2 separate regions of the Homo sapiens genome follow, and region 1 is linked to region 2. Evidence: fine-mapped expression QTL. Tissue or cell type: whole blood. Region 2 holds a variant in brackets; the other region holds the start of a gene. All regions are shown on one strand. Distances are between the middles of the regions.

Region 1 (8,169 bases), 20 kb before region 2:
AATTTTTATTATATGCTATATTAGCTTCAAATTAGATAAAATAATTCAAAGTAAAAATCTGTAATGGAAGCCAGGTGCAGTGGCTCAGGTCTGTAATCCCAGCACTTTGGGAGGCCGAGGCAGGCAGATCACCTGAGGTCAGGAGTGTGAGACCAGCCTGGCCAACACAGTGAAACTCCGTCTCTATTAAATATACAAAAATTACCCAGGTGTGGGCCAGGCGCAGTGGCTCATGCCTTTAATCCCAGCACTTTGGGAGGCCAAGACAGGCAGATCAGGAGGTCAGAAGTTCAAGACCAGCCTGGACAACATGGTGAAACCCTATCTCTACTAAAAGTACAAAAATTATCCGGGTGTGGAGGTGGGTGCCTGTAATCCCAGCTACTCGGGAGGCTGCGGCAGAATTGCTTGAACCCAGGAAGCAGAGGTTGCAGTGAGCCGAGATCATGCCACTGCACTCCAGCCTGGGCAACAGACCAAGACTCAGTCTCAAAAAAAAAAAAAAAAAAAAATCTGTAATGGAAAGCCATCAGTATATTAGTGACTTAAAAGACATGTATTAATGAGAAAACAGCTATAAAAGATAATAGCATTTGTAATCTTACATTGAAGAACAAGAAGGTAAATTACAGGTGAAGATCTAAATATTTAAAAAATTTAAATCTAGAAGAAAATATAGGAATATATTTGCAAGATCTTGGGACAGGAGAGTTCTTCCAAAGCATGATATGAAATTCAAAAGCCAACAAATTTTACTTCACAGAATTGTTCTCAATGGGGAAAAGACAACATAAAATTAAATGCTACATTAGTAAACAACAAAAGTTAAATATACTTGAAACACATAGAGCTACTCCAATTACTAAGAAAAATTTTAAAAAACTAAAAGGAAAATGGACAGATAAGACTAGGCAAGTCCCAGAAGAAATAAATGACTTAACAAAATGGAGGCCTGGTGCAGTGATTCACGCCTGTAATCCCAGCACTTTGGGAGGCCGAGGCAGGCAGATCACCTGAAGTTGGGAGTTCAAGACCAGCCTGACCAACATGGAAAAACCCCATCTCTACTAAAAATACAAAATTAGCTGAGCGTGGTGGCGCATGCCTGTAATCCCAGCTACTCCAGAGGCTGAGGCAAGAGAATCGCTTGAACCCGTGAGGCAGAGGTTGCAATGAGACAAGATCTCGCCATTGCACTCCAGCCTGGGCAACAGGAGTGAAACTCTGTCTCAAAAAAAACAAAAACAAAAACAAAAAGGAAAGGTGCCCAGCCTCACCAAGAAACTAGAGAAAAATGAATTTAAACAATGGTACAGTACCTTTTATCAAAAAAATAGTAATAATAATAAAAGAGGCCAGGCGCAGTGACTCACGCCTGTAATCCCAGCACTTTGGGAGGCCGAGGCGGGCGGATCACCAGGTCAGGGGATCAAGATCATCCTGGCTAACATGGTGAAACCCCGTCTCTACTAAAAATACAAAAAATTAGCCGGGCGTGGTGGTGGGCGCCTGTAGTCCCAGCTACTCGGGAGGCTGAGGCAGGGGAATGGCGTGAACCCGGGGAACGGAGATTGCAGTGAGCCGAGATTGTGCCACTGCACTCCAGCCTGGGAGACAGAGCAAGACTCCGCCTCAAAAAAAATAATAATAATAATAATTAAAGATTGGTGATATTCAGTATTGGCAGGAGTGAAACTGTTAGAGCCTTTTGGTGAGCAAGTTACCAGTAGCAATCAAATAGTAAAATTGAGAACTCAGGAGTTCTAATTCTCTAAAATCTTTTTCTTTTCTTTTTTTTTTTTTTAGACGGAGTTTCGCTCTTATCGCCCAGGCTGGAGTGAAATGGCGCAATCTTGGCTCACCGCAACCTCTGCCTCCTGGGTTCAAGCGATTCTCCTGCCCCAGCCTCCTCAGCAGGGGATTATAGGCGCGCGCCACCATGCCCGACTAATTTTTGTATTTTTAGTAGAGACAGGTTTTCACCATGTTGGCCAGGCTAGTCTTGAACTCCTCATCTCAGGTGATCGGTCCGCCTTGGCCTCCCAAAGTGATGGGATTACAGGGGTGAGCCACCGAGGCCAGCCTATAATTCTATAAAATCTTTCTTACAGAAATAGTCACACGGGATGCATGTACAAAGCGGCACTATCTGTAATACTCAAAAACAGGAGGCAATTTTTAAAAACCTATCAGTAAAGGCATAAATAATTTTTAAAATGGTATACTCATGCTGTGGAATACTATGCAGCCATTAAAAAGAATTCTGTAGACTTTATTTATTGACAAGGATGCAAGTCACAGAACAACTACAGTTTCATCTTGTTAGTACAACAAACAGGACAATAACATAGATTTAAATTCAAATGTAAATATATGTGGGTACGCACACAAAAAATCTAAAAGGAAACATGGAGCAAAAAGCCTGGAATTTTCAGGTTTTACTTTAAAATTTCTCTAATGACAAAAATCTTTAAAACAAGCACGAATAACTTTTTTGACTTTTAGAAACCATTTTTAAAAATTAAATACTGGGAGGTCAAAAAGGAAAAAAAAATCAGTCACGTAACAAACGTAACTTCAACCACGCTTAACAATGTAATGGAACTAATTTTTAAAGCAAATGTGGCAAATGGCTAAAAAAATACTGACCAGTTCTTAACAGTTTTTAACTCCACGCAGTTACGCCAGAGGTAGCACACTTTAAGCTATGCACATACAATTTTATTTACAGAGCCATGCTACAATTGAGGTATACGAAATTTAGTTTATCACTTCATAAAATAAATTATTCTTAAAAGTTACACGAGACAAAAATACTAACCAGGGTCTCTTGTTCCGAAGCTGGAATCTGTGAGGTGGTTACAGCACCATCAGTAGGTACAGACATGTTGGTATTGCACATTTGCCTACAAGGAAAAAAAAGACACGATGAAAACTGGAAATCATGAAACATCTGTGGAAAATACATCATATATAAAGAACATAAACAACAGTTAAAACTAAAGCTACAAGCAAGTCGGTGCTTACCTGGATCAGCAGAGAAAAAGTGGCGTGCGTCCGTGCCCACAGGTCTACCCTCCAATCGCCACTGAACACAGCTGGGAAAATGCATGGTTTAAATAGCCCCAGCTGGAGACAAGTCAGGACTTAACTCCTTTTACTGCAGTTTCGGAACGTGTCTGAACTTGACCAGCTCAAGAGGAAAAGCTGAGTCAACCTGCCCACTGAACCGGCCCAATCCCGCCCAGACTACGCGCAGCGTTCACACTAGTGACCCGACAGGCACCTGCGATCATCCGGACCTCCCGCGCCGAAGCGGCCCCGCAGCCCCCGGCCCCCGTGACCTTTACCCTGAACTCCCGCGGAGACCTCCGAACCACCCCCACCCCCACCGCCGCGAGAGCCGTCCGAAATCCCGCCCTCCTCCCTGGCGGCGACTGCCTAGCCCCAGTCCAACAAAACCTCCGCAAAGCCACGTGCCCCATGCCCCGCGCCCCGCGCCCCGAGCCCCCAGCCACGAACCGCACAAAGGCTGCGAACGGGCAGAGGCTGGGAACCAGCGATAGAGGGGACACCGTCAGAGCCCAGACCCAAAAGTGACCGCTCGCTGCCGGGCCAGTACCTGCTCCTCACCATCCGGGGTTTTCGCGCTTGGAGTCGGGGGTCCCTCAAGACTCCCCAGTTTCCTTCACGGGGCGCGCGGAAGCACGACGCCCTGGGCCTCGGGGATCATTCCACTCTCCGGGCCAGGGCACTGGGCGCTCGTACGCACTAATCCGGGGAGGGACGGTGCTCCTGGCTGCGAAAGCAGCAGGATCTCGGTCAGAGGGGTCGCGGCCGCCCCTCGGGCTCGGCTTCTTGCTCCATCTTTCCGACACACAGGGCCACACAGGCCCCAGAAGCAGCCAAGCTCGCCGCGGTGCCTCGGTGCGCGCCCCCTACCGCCCGAGGGGAGCGCGCGGGTCGTCGCGGCGCATCCGGGCATTTGTGCGCGCGCACACAACCGGCCCCGCTTCCGCCAATTGGGTCCGGGGCTCGGCCGCACCACCTCCGGGATGATGGAGTGGGGGGTGTCGCCCCGCGGGCGCGGCGGGCTGTGAGGCGGGGTGGGGGTGTTGGCCGCGAGCTGAGAGGGTGGGGCTCGGCCTGGCGCGGAGCCAGCAAGGTTTGGCGCTGTGACACTCCTTTAGCCGTTGCGCTATGTTTGTATTTCTTGTGTTTACACTTCCCGCCCGCGGTGGAAACTGCGACAAATGCGGATCTCCGTGTCGCTGTTACCAAAAAGAAACCAAAATTAACAGCTGTTTAATATATTAAGCCCACTCCACCAGCCGCTGGAGTTGTACCCAAATGAGTTATTTTAAGGCCTGTTTTTAAAAAAGATTAAAAATAGCACTTAAGGCAGGCTTATACACCGGTGCATACAGCTGTTCTGGTTGGAGAACGAAGATGCTGGTTACCGTTGGCGGGGAGGGGAGCGGTTACTCTGCGCTTTTAGAATGTTTGGGTTTGGCTGGGCGCGGTGGCTCACGCTTGTAATCCCATCACTTTGGGTAGGCCGAGGCGGGTGGATCACTTGAGGTCAGGAGTTCAAGACCAACCTGGCCAACATGGGAAACGCCGTCTCTACTAAAAACTACAAAAATTAGTCGGGCGTGGTGGCGGTCACCTGTAATCCCAGCTACTCTACTCCGGAGGCTGAGGCAGGACAATCCTGTGAACCCGGGAGGCAGAGGCTGCAGTGAGCCAAGATCATGCCATTGCACTCCAGCCTGGGCGACAGGGCAAGACTCTCAAAAAAACAAAAACAAAGTTTGGGTTTGTTAATCTACACATTCATTATCATTAAAATATATACTTATATATTATGCACTCATTCTGACTCACCTACTTTCCCACAGAGATGTGGCAAAAACGTTTTTGATGCGGTCTCATAAATTGAGGACATAAAGAATTGAGTTAGCTAAACCCAAAAACACAGCCATTGCAAAGAAGGAACACGTTTCTTCTCTGGCCAGTAAGTGATTAGCTCCTTGTGAACAAGGACCTTTTTTTATAAAGTTATATCCTTCCCTTCTGCAGCTTTTTTTTTTTTATAAAGTTATATCCTTCCCTTCTCCCGCTTCCCAGCCTACCAGAAAGGAAACTTCCTTAAACATAGTGGTCACTCAGTTGATTTAAGTTGATTGCCAATATTATTAACTTAAGAGATTTAATATGTGGCTTTTAAAAAGATAATCTCATCTTCATCAGATCATATACAGTGGGGTTTCTAATAGACTCAGTGCTTGACCCTGGATGAAAGAAAATCTCAAGCAGTGAGAAAATGTAAGCATGAAAAGATAAGTGATAGGCTGCGCACGGTGGCTCACGCTTGTAATCCCAGCACTTTGGGAGGCTGAGGTGGGTGGATCACGAGGTTAGGAGTTCGAGACCAGCCTGGCCAAGATGGTGAAACCTTGTCTCTACTAAAAATACAAAAATTAGCCGGGCCCCGTGGCGGGCGCCTGTAATCCTAGCCACTTGGGAGGCTGAGGCAGAAGAATCGCTTGATCTCGGGAGGCAGAGGTTGCAGTGAGCGGAGATCGCGCCACTGCAGTCCAGCCTGGGTGACAGAGCAAGACTCCATCTCAGAAGAAAAAAAAAAAAAAAGAGATAAGTGATAGAGGTTGATATTTGTTAAATATCAAGTGAACGAATGGGTTTGTGCTATAAAAGTTCAGAGACAGAATTAATTGCTTAGTAAATGCTGGAGGCAGTTCACAAAGGCCTCAGAGATCACACATATTTTGTGTCTTGAAAGATGGTGAGACTTAAATAAAAGCAGAGAATATTCCAGGCACAAGAAAATTATCAAAAAATACAGAAAGGAAAATATAAGAGGACTGTTTGAGATACAATAAATAAATCCGTTTGACTTGCATGAAAGTCAAGAAGAAGTTTTAAGAACTTGGAGTCTCCTTAAATGCCAAGCAAGGAAATTTGGGCTTTCGACAGAGTAGACATTAGAAGCATAAAAACAAGTGATTTGCTTCAAACTGTATTTTAACAGGACCACCAAGAGTAGATTCAAACTCAGAATAGTCGGGCCGGCTGCCTTCTGGACCGACTTTCCCCCTTCTCATTGGCCTTGTGCTTTGAAAAAATTATCTTGACAAAATTATTAGAGCAGAAAAAAAAAGGCAGAACTGATAAGATTAGTCCTTTTCTAATGGAACCAGAAAAGAAGGGTCAGAAATGAAGGCAGAAGGGAGAAGCGGGGGTGGGGGAGAGAGAGAGAAGTAAAAAGGATTCACTCAAGAACCTGGTATTCAAAACTACGTGTACCAGCACTACCACAGCAGTATGACTCAGTGTCCACCTAAAGCATGATGATACTGCTTACCAAAAAAAGTCTGGAGGGAATGAAAAGTTGGGTTAGTTTTAAGTTATGGGTCACAGAACAGAATTCGGTGGTAAAAAGCTTAGGCTGGGAACAGAGCTTGAAACAGCAAAGGAATGAGAGGAACGACCAAAAAGCCAAGGACCATATAGTGATGTCTGAAAAATCAGAATCAGGTAATAATATTGAATACTGCAAAAGTCAGAGAAAATGTGGAAATAAGAAAGCAAGCGATCTGGAAAGTGGCGAGTAAGATGGAATATGAGGAGGTTGCTGAGAGCTGGGAGGAGACGGCAGACAGCGGGGAAATAGACGTCTGGAAAAAAAACTGAAGATCACACAGAAAGCAGGAAATTCAAATCTCCCAAAGTGCCCATTGTGATTCAGGATGATAATTTTCCCCCGGGACCCCCTCCACAGGTCCGCATCCTCAAGAGGCCCACCAGCAACGGTGTGGTCAGCAGCCCCAAGTCCGCTAGCAGGCCCGCCCTTCCAGTCAAGTCCCTGGCACAGTGGGAAGCCGAGTACACCGAGGCCAGGAAGCGGATCCTGGGCAGCGCCAACCCGAGGAGAAGCAGGAGAAACCCATCCTCGATAGGTCTTCCTCTGATCTTCTTCCCTTCAGGCCAACCAGGATCTCCTAACCCGAAGACAGCAGACAGCCCAATAATGTGATCAGACAGCCTCTGGGTCCTGATGGGTCACACGGCTTCAAACAGCGCAGATAAATGCAGGCAAGAAGAGATGGCGCGACTGCCGCGTCAACGCGTCCTGGGTCGTCCGCCAAGGGTTGCACTACCGTGGCAGACAGCTGGACTTGAGCAGCGGGAACTTGACTTACTTGCCTGGTGATCCCCGTTGCTCCGCCCACTGTGACCTTGAATCCCATGCACTGTGACCTCCCCCCTTCTCCTCCTTCCCACTGTGATTGGCACTTTGACAAGGACTGTCCCAAGTCAATGGAAAGGGAAAAAGGGTGAGGGTTAGGAGAAGGTTGGGGGGAACCCACCAATTACTCAGAGTAGAGAGTCAGACAGGGCCAGCAATAGCGGTTTATCATGCTCATTAATTTGGGATTTCAAAACACAAATGAACTCACACCTACCCACCCCCAAGTGCATGTCATCACTTAAAAAGTGAGTTCCATTTGAAAAAAAAGAAAGCAAACTACCTGCTCACTCTAAAAGCAGTTGCTGTTGTTTGTGACTTTGCCATTTAAAAAAATACAGACCAGCTGCTGCTGTTTGCTTGCATTCCACAGTTATCTTGTGTCACTTTGCCCTTTGTTGTGCTTACTTGAAGTTTCTCTAGAGGCAAACTGCTTATTTCTAGTAGCGTTGTTCTTGATGCCCAAGAGGTGTTCCAAGAGGTTGAGATACTTTGAGTGTCTTTATATTCTCTGGGACCTAAACTCTGCAAACAAGGCTCACACCTGTAATCCCAGCACTGTGGGAGGCCAAGGCTGGAGGATCTATTGAGGCCAAGAGTTTGAGACCAGCCTGAGCAACATGGCGAAACCCTGTCTCTATAAATTGCAAAAAAAAATTAGCCAGGCGTGGTGGCACTCACCTATAGTCCTAGCTACTTGGGAGCCAGAGCTGGGAGGATGGCTTGAGCCCGGATAGGTTGTGGTGTGATCCTGCCACTGCACTCCAGCCTATGTGACAGAGTGAGACCATGTCTCAAGGGGAAAAAAAAAAGTCTACAACAGACTTATCTTGACCCAAGGGCCACTTCGTACTTGTATTTATTAGTCATAACTAATCTTTTGTCTTTCTTTTTTTTTT
Region 2 (8,199 bases):
TTAGGCCAGGTGCAGTGGCTTGCACCTGTCATCCCAGCACTTTGGTAGGCTGAGGTGGAAGGATTGCTGGAGCCCAGGAGTTCAAGATCAGCCTGGGCAACATAGGGAGATGCCATCCCTACAAAAATAAAAAAATTAGCCAGGCATGGTGGTGCATGTGTGTGGTCCCAGCTACTCAGGAGGCTGAGATGGGAGGATCACTTGAGCCTGGGAGGCCGAGGCTGCAATGAGCTATGACCTCACCACTGTATTCCAGCCTGGGTGAGAGAGCCAGATCCTGTCTCAAAAAAACAGGGAGTAGGGCAATTAAATAGTAAGAATTTGATCATGATTGTCTAGCATAGGAATAATCAATTCACTGGAAAAATACATAAAAATTTCTAGGCCTTTCCATAGCTGGAAAGAAATAGCTTCCTAAATTAGTCTACTCCCTTACCTCTGATTATATGGTCCTTAAAAACTTCCTGCTAACCAGGCCGGGCGCAGTGGCTCACGCCTGTAATCCCAGCACTTTGGGAGGCTGAGGTGGGCAGATCACGAGGTCAGGAGTTTGAGACCAGCCTGGCCAACATGGTGAAACCCCATCTCTACTAAAAATACAAAAATTAGCTGGGCGTGGTGGCAGGTGCCTGTAATCCCAGCTACGTGGGTGCCTGTAATCTCAGCTACTTGGGAGGCTGAGTCAGGAGAATCGCTTGAAACTGGAAGATGGAGGTTGTAGTGAGCCGAGATCGCACCATTGCACTCCAGCCTGGGCAACAAGAGTGAAACTCTGTCTCAAAAAAAAAACAAAAATAAATAAATAAATAAACTTCCTGCTAACCTATCTAATTTCACAGGTACCTTGATGCAAAGGAGATGCTCATGGAGGGGAAATGCATTGTTTAGGTAGATCCACCTTCCAAATTAAGGAACTGATATTCCAGTGTATAAATCAGTCTCTTTAATTTTTTTAACATTATTATTATTATTATTAAGACGGCGTCTCGGTCTGTCACCCAGGCGGGAGTGCAGTGGCGCAATCTCGTTTCACTGCAACCTCCACCCGCTGGGTTCAAGTGAGTCTCCTGCCTCAGCCTCCCTAGTAGCTGGTATTACAGGCACCTACCACCACACCTGGCTAATTTTTGTGTTTTTAGTGGATTTCACCATGTTGGCCAGGGTGGTCTTGAACTCCTCAGGTGATCCGCCCACCTTGGCTTCCCAAAATGCTGGGATTACAGATGTGAGCCACTGCATCCAGCCTTTTTAAGAAAATTTTTTGAGATAGAGTCTTGCTGTGTTGCCCAGGCTGGAGTGAAGTGACACGATCACAGCTCACTGCAGCCTCAACCTACTGGGCTCGGCTCAAGCAGTCCTCCTTCATCAGTCTCCCAAGTAGCTAGGACTGTAGGTAAGCGCCACCACACCTGGCTAATATTTAAATTTTTGGTAGAGACAGGATCTCCCTGTGTTGCCCAGCCTGGTCTCAAACTTTTGGGCTCAAGCAGTCCTGTCTCAGCCCCGTAAAGTGCTGAGATTACAGGCATGCATGCCTGGCCTCTTTAATTGTTTAAACATCTTAATCCATACAGTTTTTTTTTTCTTTTTTTCTTTTTGAGACAGAGTTTTGCTCTTGTTGCCCAGGCTGGAGTGCAATGGCGTGATCTCGGCTCACTGCAACCTCTGCCTCCTGGGTTCAAGCAATTCTTGTGCCTCAGCCTCCTGAGTAGCTAGGATTATAGTCATGCACCACCGCGCCACCCCCCTCCCCCCTGGCTAGTTTTGTATTTTTAGTAGAGATGGGGTTTTTCCACTTTGGTCAGGCTGGTCTCAAACTCCCGACCTCAGGTGATCCGCCCGCCTCGGGCTCCCAAAGTGCTGGGATTATAGGCATAATCCATACAGTTTTCTTAATTTCTAATTCTATGATTCCATCTCCAGGGCTTTCGCATCTGGTCCATAGAAGGTACTTAGTACATTTGTTGAATGAATAGATGACCACATCATTGCTGTTGTTTTGTTTAAAATTTTAAATGTTATGAATCACAGTCATTTTCTTCCCCATGGGATTACTATGTAAATGATTTGTTTCTGCTGAGGGATTATAGGCCGACAATTTGAAGTAGAGCTAATTATATTCAAGGCAGATTGTAAACATCTCATTCATTTATTCACTCATTCAATAAAAACTTGCTAAGTGCCTATTAACTTGGATGCTCTGCCCTGGGGAATACGATAATCATAATTTTTAAATTTTTTTAATTATTATTTTTTTGAGACAGAGTATTGCTCTGTCACCCAGGCTGGAGTGCAGTGGTGCAATCTTGGCTGACTGCAAGCTCCACCTCCCGGGTTCCCGCCATTCTCCTGCCTCAGCCTCCCGAGTAGCTGGGGCCACAGGTGCCCACCACCATGCCCGGCTAATTTTTTGTATTTTTAGTAGAGACAGGTTTTCACTGTGTTAGCCAGGATGGTCTCGATCTCCTGACCTCATGATCCACTTGCGTCGGCCTCCCAAAGTGCTAGGATTATAGGTGTGAGCCACCGCACCCAGCCAATAATCATAATTTTTAAAAGAAACTGTCCCAGCTACTCAGGAGGCTGAAGTAGGAGGATCACTTGAGCCAGGGAGTTCGAGGTTGCAGTGAGCCGTGATGGTGCCACTGCACTCCAGCCTCGGTGACAGAGCAAGACCTTGTTTCAAAAAACAAAACAAAACAAGAACTATAGTTCTTGTTTTTTTTTTTTTTTTTGAGACAGTCACCCAGGCACATGCCACCGCACCTGACTAATTTGGTTTTTTTTGTATTTTTAGTAGAGACGGGGTTGCACCATATTGATCAGGCTGGTCTCAAACTCTTGACTTCAGGTGATCCACCCGCTTCAGCCTCCCAGAGTGCTGGGATTACAGGCGTTAGCCACCGCGCCCAGCCCAAAAACTATAGTTCTTACAGTGGAAGGTGGAAGGAGTTGCAATTGAAAATAGTTAGATGTTCTAAGCAGCATGTTGATAAAGGTGGGGAAACCAAGCTGTGTGTACTTAGAAATGGGAGAAGACTAGTAATCATTAACTAGAGAGGTCTATTGATCTCTAGGGCCTCACTCATCCAGCAGAGGTTTAGGTGGCAAGCATAAGGTTAAAAATCCCAGGCCTTTCCAGAAGACTGGTGAGTCACATGGACGGGTGGACCAAGAACTGTTGGACATTTAGTTGCTTTCCTATTTTTTTTGCTATTATCAATAATGTTTCTCAGCCTGATGGTGCACACCAACTTAGGAGACTGAGGCAAGAGGATTGCTTTAGCCCAGGAGTTGGAGGTTGCAGTGAGCTATACTCGCACCACTGCACTCCAGCCTGGGCAACAGAGCAAGACCCTGTCTCTAAAAATGATAATAATAATAATGCTGTGATAAACTTCTCTGCACAAAAATCTTTATGCAGGGCTGGACGTGGTGGCTTACACCTGTAATCCCAGTACTTCAGGTGGCTGAGGCCAGAGAATCACTTGAGGCCAAGAGCTCAAGACTAGCCTGGGCAACAAAGAGAGACCTTGTCTTTACAAAAAAATTAAAAAAAAAATAAAAAACTTAGGCACACTCGGTGTCATAAGCCTGTAGTCTCAGCTACTCAGGAGGCTGAGGTAGGAAGATGGCTTGACCATGGAAGTTTGAGGCTGCAATGAGTTATGATCTTGCCACTGCACTCCAGCCATGGTGACAGTGAGACCCCATCTACAAAGAAAATCTTTTTGCACATCTTTACTTTCTTAGGATAAACTCCTGAAAGTGGATTTTCTGGGTTACAGGGCATGAGCATTTTTGTGGCTATGCAATTTATGGTCTCATGATGAATGTAAGATGGTACTTGTTTTCCCATACCCTCGACAGGACTAAATTTGGGAAAACATGGATTTATAGGTCTCTATGAAAATTAAAATGTTTCCCAATTTTATATGTTTAAAAATTTCATTTAAGAACAATTTAAATCCATTGGAAAGAGCTGTAGAAAAAGGAATTTGTAGTAAAAGGGATTTGCTTTGTGTTGTACTTCAGTGAGTGCTGGGTCTTTTTTTTGTATTAATATTCCCAAGTTGAAGTAGAAGTGTTCATCAATGCTTTAACTTGTGGGCTTAAAGGAGAGGTGTGATACAAGGAAAAAGGGGTGGTGGAAAATATTTTTTAAAAAAATGTAACAGGCCGGTTGTGATGGCTCACACCTGTAATCCAAGCACTTTGGGAAGCTGAGGCAGGTGGATCACTTGAGGTCAGGAATTCGAGACCAGCCTGGCCAACATGGTGAAACCCCGTGCCTACTAAAAATACAAAAATTAGCCAGGCATGGTGACACCCGCCTGTAATCCCAGCTACTTGGGAGGCTGGGGCAGAAGAATTGCTTGAACCCAGGAGGAGGAGTTTACAGTGAGCCAAGATCGTGCCACTGAATTACAGTCTGGGTGACAGAGCGAAACTCCATCTCAAAAAAAAAAAAAAAAAGGAACACGATAAGAAATCAAGGCGAAAAGAAGAAAAGAACAAACATGGGAAAGGAAAATGATGGGAAAGCAGGCAGGCCCGGACTCTGGCCACCGCA[C/T]GGGCTTTTGCCTGGACTTGCCCATTTTCCTGTGTCATTGCTGTCCCATGTTTTCAGTTCACAAGTTGAGCAACTGCAGCTTCCTTTATCATTAGAAGAGGAAATGAAAGAGCAAGGGTACAAGTAATTACTGGGGCCAGCACAGAATGTTTTTTGTTTGTTTTTTTCTTTTTTTTTTTTTTGCCCGGCTTGTTTTGTTTTTTTAGAGGGAAAACCCATGTGTTGCAACTTGTTCAATCACCAGGATTTTAGTCCTCTGACCTTCAGACGTTAGTCATTCCTTCCTCTTAAACAGCTCCTTCCCTAGTTTTTGAACTGGTCTTTGGGTTAAACACAACAGGGCCCTTCTAACCTCTCAGAAAAGTCTGAGAAATAAATTCAAATTCTAATAAGTAGTATTTCTGAATGTTAAAATATGTATGAATTGGCTACATATTTTATATTGTTAGTTCTCTCAGGATCTTTCCTATATAGTGAAATTCACTGAGCTAAAATGTAATGTTAAATACTTACAAGAGGCTTTGGTTATAAAATGACTGAAGAGGAATTTCTCTATAAATAGGTTTAGGTTTAGGAAACCTGCAATAGCAGTGGCTCCACCTAAAGACCAGAAAATGACACAGTCTAACTGTGATGTTTTCAAGCTTAGAGGCGGTCATTCACTTTAAAAGTAAAGCGACATGGTTTTTATCTCTCACCACCTTGCTTAAAAGTGATGCAGATAACTTAAAAAGTGATTTAAAAACATAAATTCAGCACATAAAACACATAATCCATAAAACACAGCACATAAAAGTATGATAGAAAATTATTTAATAATTTTAAAAAGTAAATTGTAGTTACTCTTAAAAGAAGACTAGAGTCTTTGCCACAGTTAAAAAGTAAGTAAGGTTAGGCCAGGCGCGGTGGCTCAAGCCTGTAATCCCAGCACTTTGGGAGCCCAAGGTGGGCAGATCACGAGGTCAGGAGTTCGAGACCAGCCTGGCCAATATGGTGAAACCTCCGTCTCTACTAAAAATACAAAAATTAGCCGGGCGTGGTGGCAGACGCCTGTAGTCCCAGCTACTCGGGAGGCTGAGGCAGGAGAATCGCTTGAACCTGGGAGGTGGAGGTTGCAGTGAGCCGAGATCGTGCCACTGCACTCCAGCCTGCGTGACAGAGCGAGACTATGTCTCAAAAAATAAACACATAAAAATAAAATAAAAAGTAAGTAAGGTTAAAAAGAAAGAAAAGTAAACTAGAGTCCAGACCAAACTAGACCAGAACTTTCCTAGCAAAATTGAAACAGTTATTTAGCTGAGTGTGGAAAGGTAAATCCTATGCATCATGTCACAAGTACACACATCATTGCTAGGTGGGATGGCTCATGCTTGTAATCCCAGTGCTTTGGGAGGCTGAGGCAGGAGGATTGCCGGAGCCCAGGAAGGTGGCTTGAGACTGCAATGAGCTGTGATTGTGCCACTGTAGTCCAACCTGGGGGTCAGAGACCCTGTCTCAAAAAATAAAAAACAAAAAAACCCCGCAACAACAACAAAAAAGAAGTTCACCATCAACCAGTTTATTGATTTACTGCCACTATCCTCTTGGCCAAGTATCAAAATATTTTAAGCATGAATTTGGCTGTGACCCTTAATTCATTAATTAATTCATTTACTTTTAGAGATAGGGTCTCGCTATGTTGGCTAGGTTGGAGTGCAAAGTCTATTCGAGGCATGACTGTAGTGCACTACAACCTTGAACTCCTGGGCTGAAGCGATCCTCCCACCTCAGCCTTTCAAGTAGCTGGCACCACAGGCTCACACCATCATACCCAGCAATTCATATATTTAACGAATATTTACTGGCACAGTGCAAGGCATTTAAAATATAGCCTGATTAAAACATATATAACCTGTGCCTTTTTTGAGCTTGCAGTATAGTAAAGGAGAAATACAAGAAGCAAATAAATATATAATTGCAAACTGGGATGAGGCATTAGAAGGAAAAGAACTGAGTTCCTAAAAGAGAGACTAGCAAGGTTGATCTTGCTAGTCTGAAATCTGACTGAGATACCATGAGTAATGATCACTTGATTACTCAGAGAACTGCAGCATTTTGGTACAGCTGGTGGTACGTTAATATTTCCTTGTTCATATCTGTGTCCTTGCATAACTTTTTAATATTTGGCCATGCTCTTTGGCCTCTAAATTGAAAGCTCTGTGGTGAAAGGCACTATCTTCCACTTCTTCCTAATTTTCAGAGTATAATACGGGGTGCTGTGTGCAGGACTCATGCTCCTGACTGAATAAAAGACTATTTCTTTGAGTCTAATTAGTTGGGAAAGTCCCCTTGGTTAGATTGCTTTGCCTAATAATTTTGTATTCCTAGCATTTCAGAGTGCCTGGCAGCCGGGTGCAGTGGCTCATGCCTGTAATCCCAGCACTTTGGGAGGCTAAGGCGGGCAGATCTTCTGAGGTCAGGAGTTTGAGACCAGCCTGGCCAACGTGGTGAAACCCCATCTCTATTAAAAATACAAAAATTAGCTGGGCATGGTTGTAGGTACCTGTAATCCCAGCTACTTGGGAGGCTGAGACAGGAGAATCACTTGAACCCAGGAGGCAGAGGTAGCAGTGAGTTGAGATCACACCACTGCACTCCAGCCTGAGCAACAGAGCGAGACTCTATCTAAAAAAAAGAAAAGAGTGCCTGACATAATCAGTGCTCAATAAAATCTGTGGAATAGTGAATAAAAGACCAAATGGATGATTAATTTTTTCACTATACTGATATACCCATTTTATTTTATTTGAGATGGGTTCTTACTCTGTCAGCCAGGCTGGAGTGCAGTGGCACAATCATGGCTCACTGCATCCTTGACCTCCCCAGGCTCAGGTGATCCTCCCACCTCAACCTCCTGAGTAGCTGGGACCACAAGTGCATGCCACCATGCCTGGTTGATTTTTGTATTTTTTGTAGAGACAGGATTTTGCCATGTTGCCCAGGCTGGTCTTGAACTTTTGGGCTCAGGTGACCTTCCCATTTTAGCTTCCCAAAGTGCTGGGATTACAGGTGTGAGCCACTGCACCCAGCTGATATGCCTGTTTTCGTGTCCAGTTAAATCACTCACTTAATCATTTATTCAACAGATAATTATTGAACACATACTAAGAACCAGGCATTGTGCCAGTACTGGGGATACGAAGGTAAACAGAAACAGACAAGATCCTGCCCTTGTGGAACTTATACTCTAGTAAGTACTTTAAAGTCAGAGGTAGACTATTGATCAAGCAGATATAGTATCCTTTTTGGTGTCGAGAGAGAAAAGGAATGTGTCCATACCTTAATGCAACCATATAATTCCCAGAAGTTAGAGCAGGGCTCCTTCATGAGCAGAAGGTACAGTCTGTAATTAGGGCTGAGAGGCAGGTGGCTACGCCCTGGACTGGGGTTAGTCTCTTGGGTTTAGTCTCTTAGAAAGCAATGTGGTTTGCAGTTCTGTTGCAATCCAGATGATGGAATGCCTACCACGAAGGAGCAAGCCCGACCTCAAGCGATAGAGACCTTTTGAGCTAAGTTCCGTCCTTCACCCAGTGCCTGTGTATTGGAATGGGTGGAGTGGGTGAGAGCGGGCTGAGAGGAAGCAAAGC

The links. PIP is the estimated chance that this variant, and not a neighbour inherited with it, causes the effect.
Region 1: MDM2 starts here. The variant in region 2 is fine-mapped to the expression of MDM2 in whole blood (TOPMed, PIP 0.96).

Annotation. Positions count from the first base shown.
Region 1 is chr12:68,803,945-68,812,113 of GRCh38, reverse strand. MDM2 (MDM2 proto-oncogene) reads right to left here and starts at 3,937. Exons shown (of 11, transcript NM_002392.6): 1 at 3,623-3,937; 2 at 2,822-2,906. The coding sequence starts at 3,636. It also overlaps the pseudogene SZRD1P1. RefSeq lists enhancers at 2,960-3,349, 2,449-3,648 and a silencer at 3,850-4,239.
Region 2 is chr12:68,784,117-68,792,315 of GRCh38, reverse strand. No RefSeq gene overlaps it. Among named protein-coding and RNA genes, the nearest start is that of MDM2, 20 kb to the left of the region's middle. RefSeq lists enhancers at 3,963-4,516, 4,517-5,071. The variant C/T (reference allele first, on the strand shown) is at 4,574.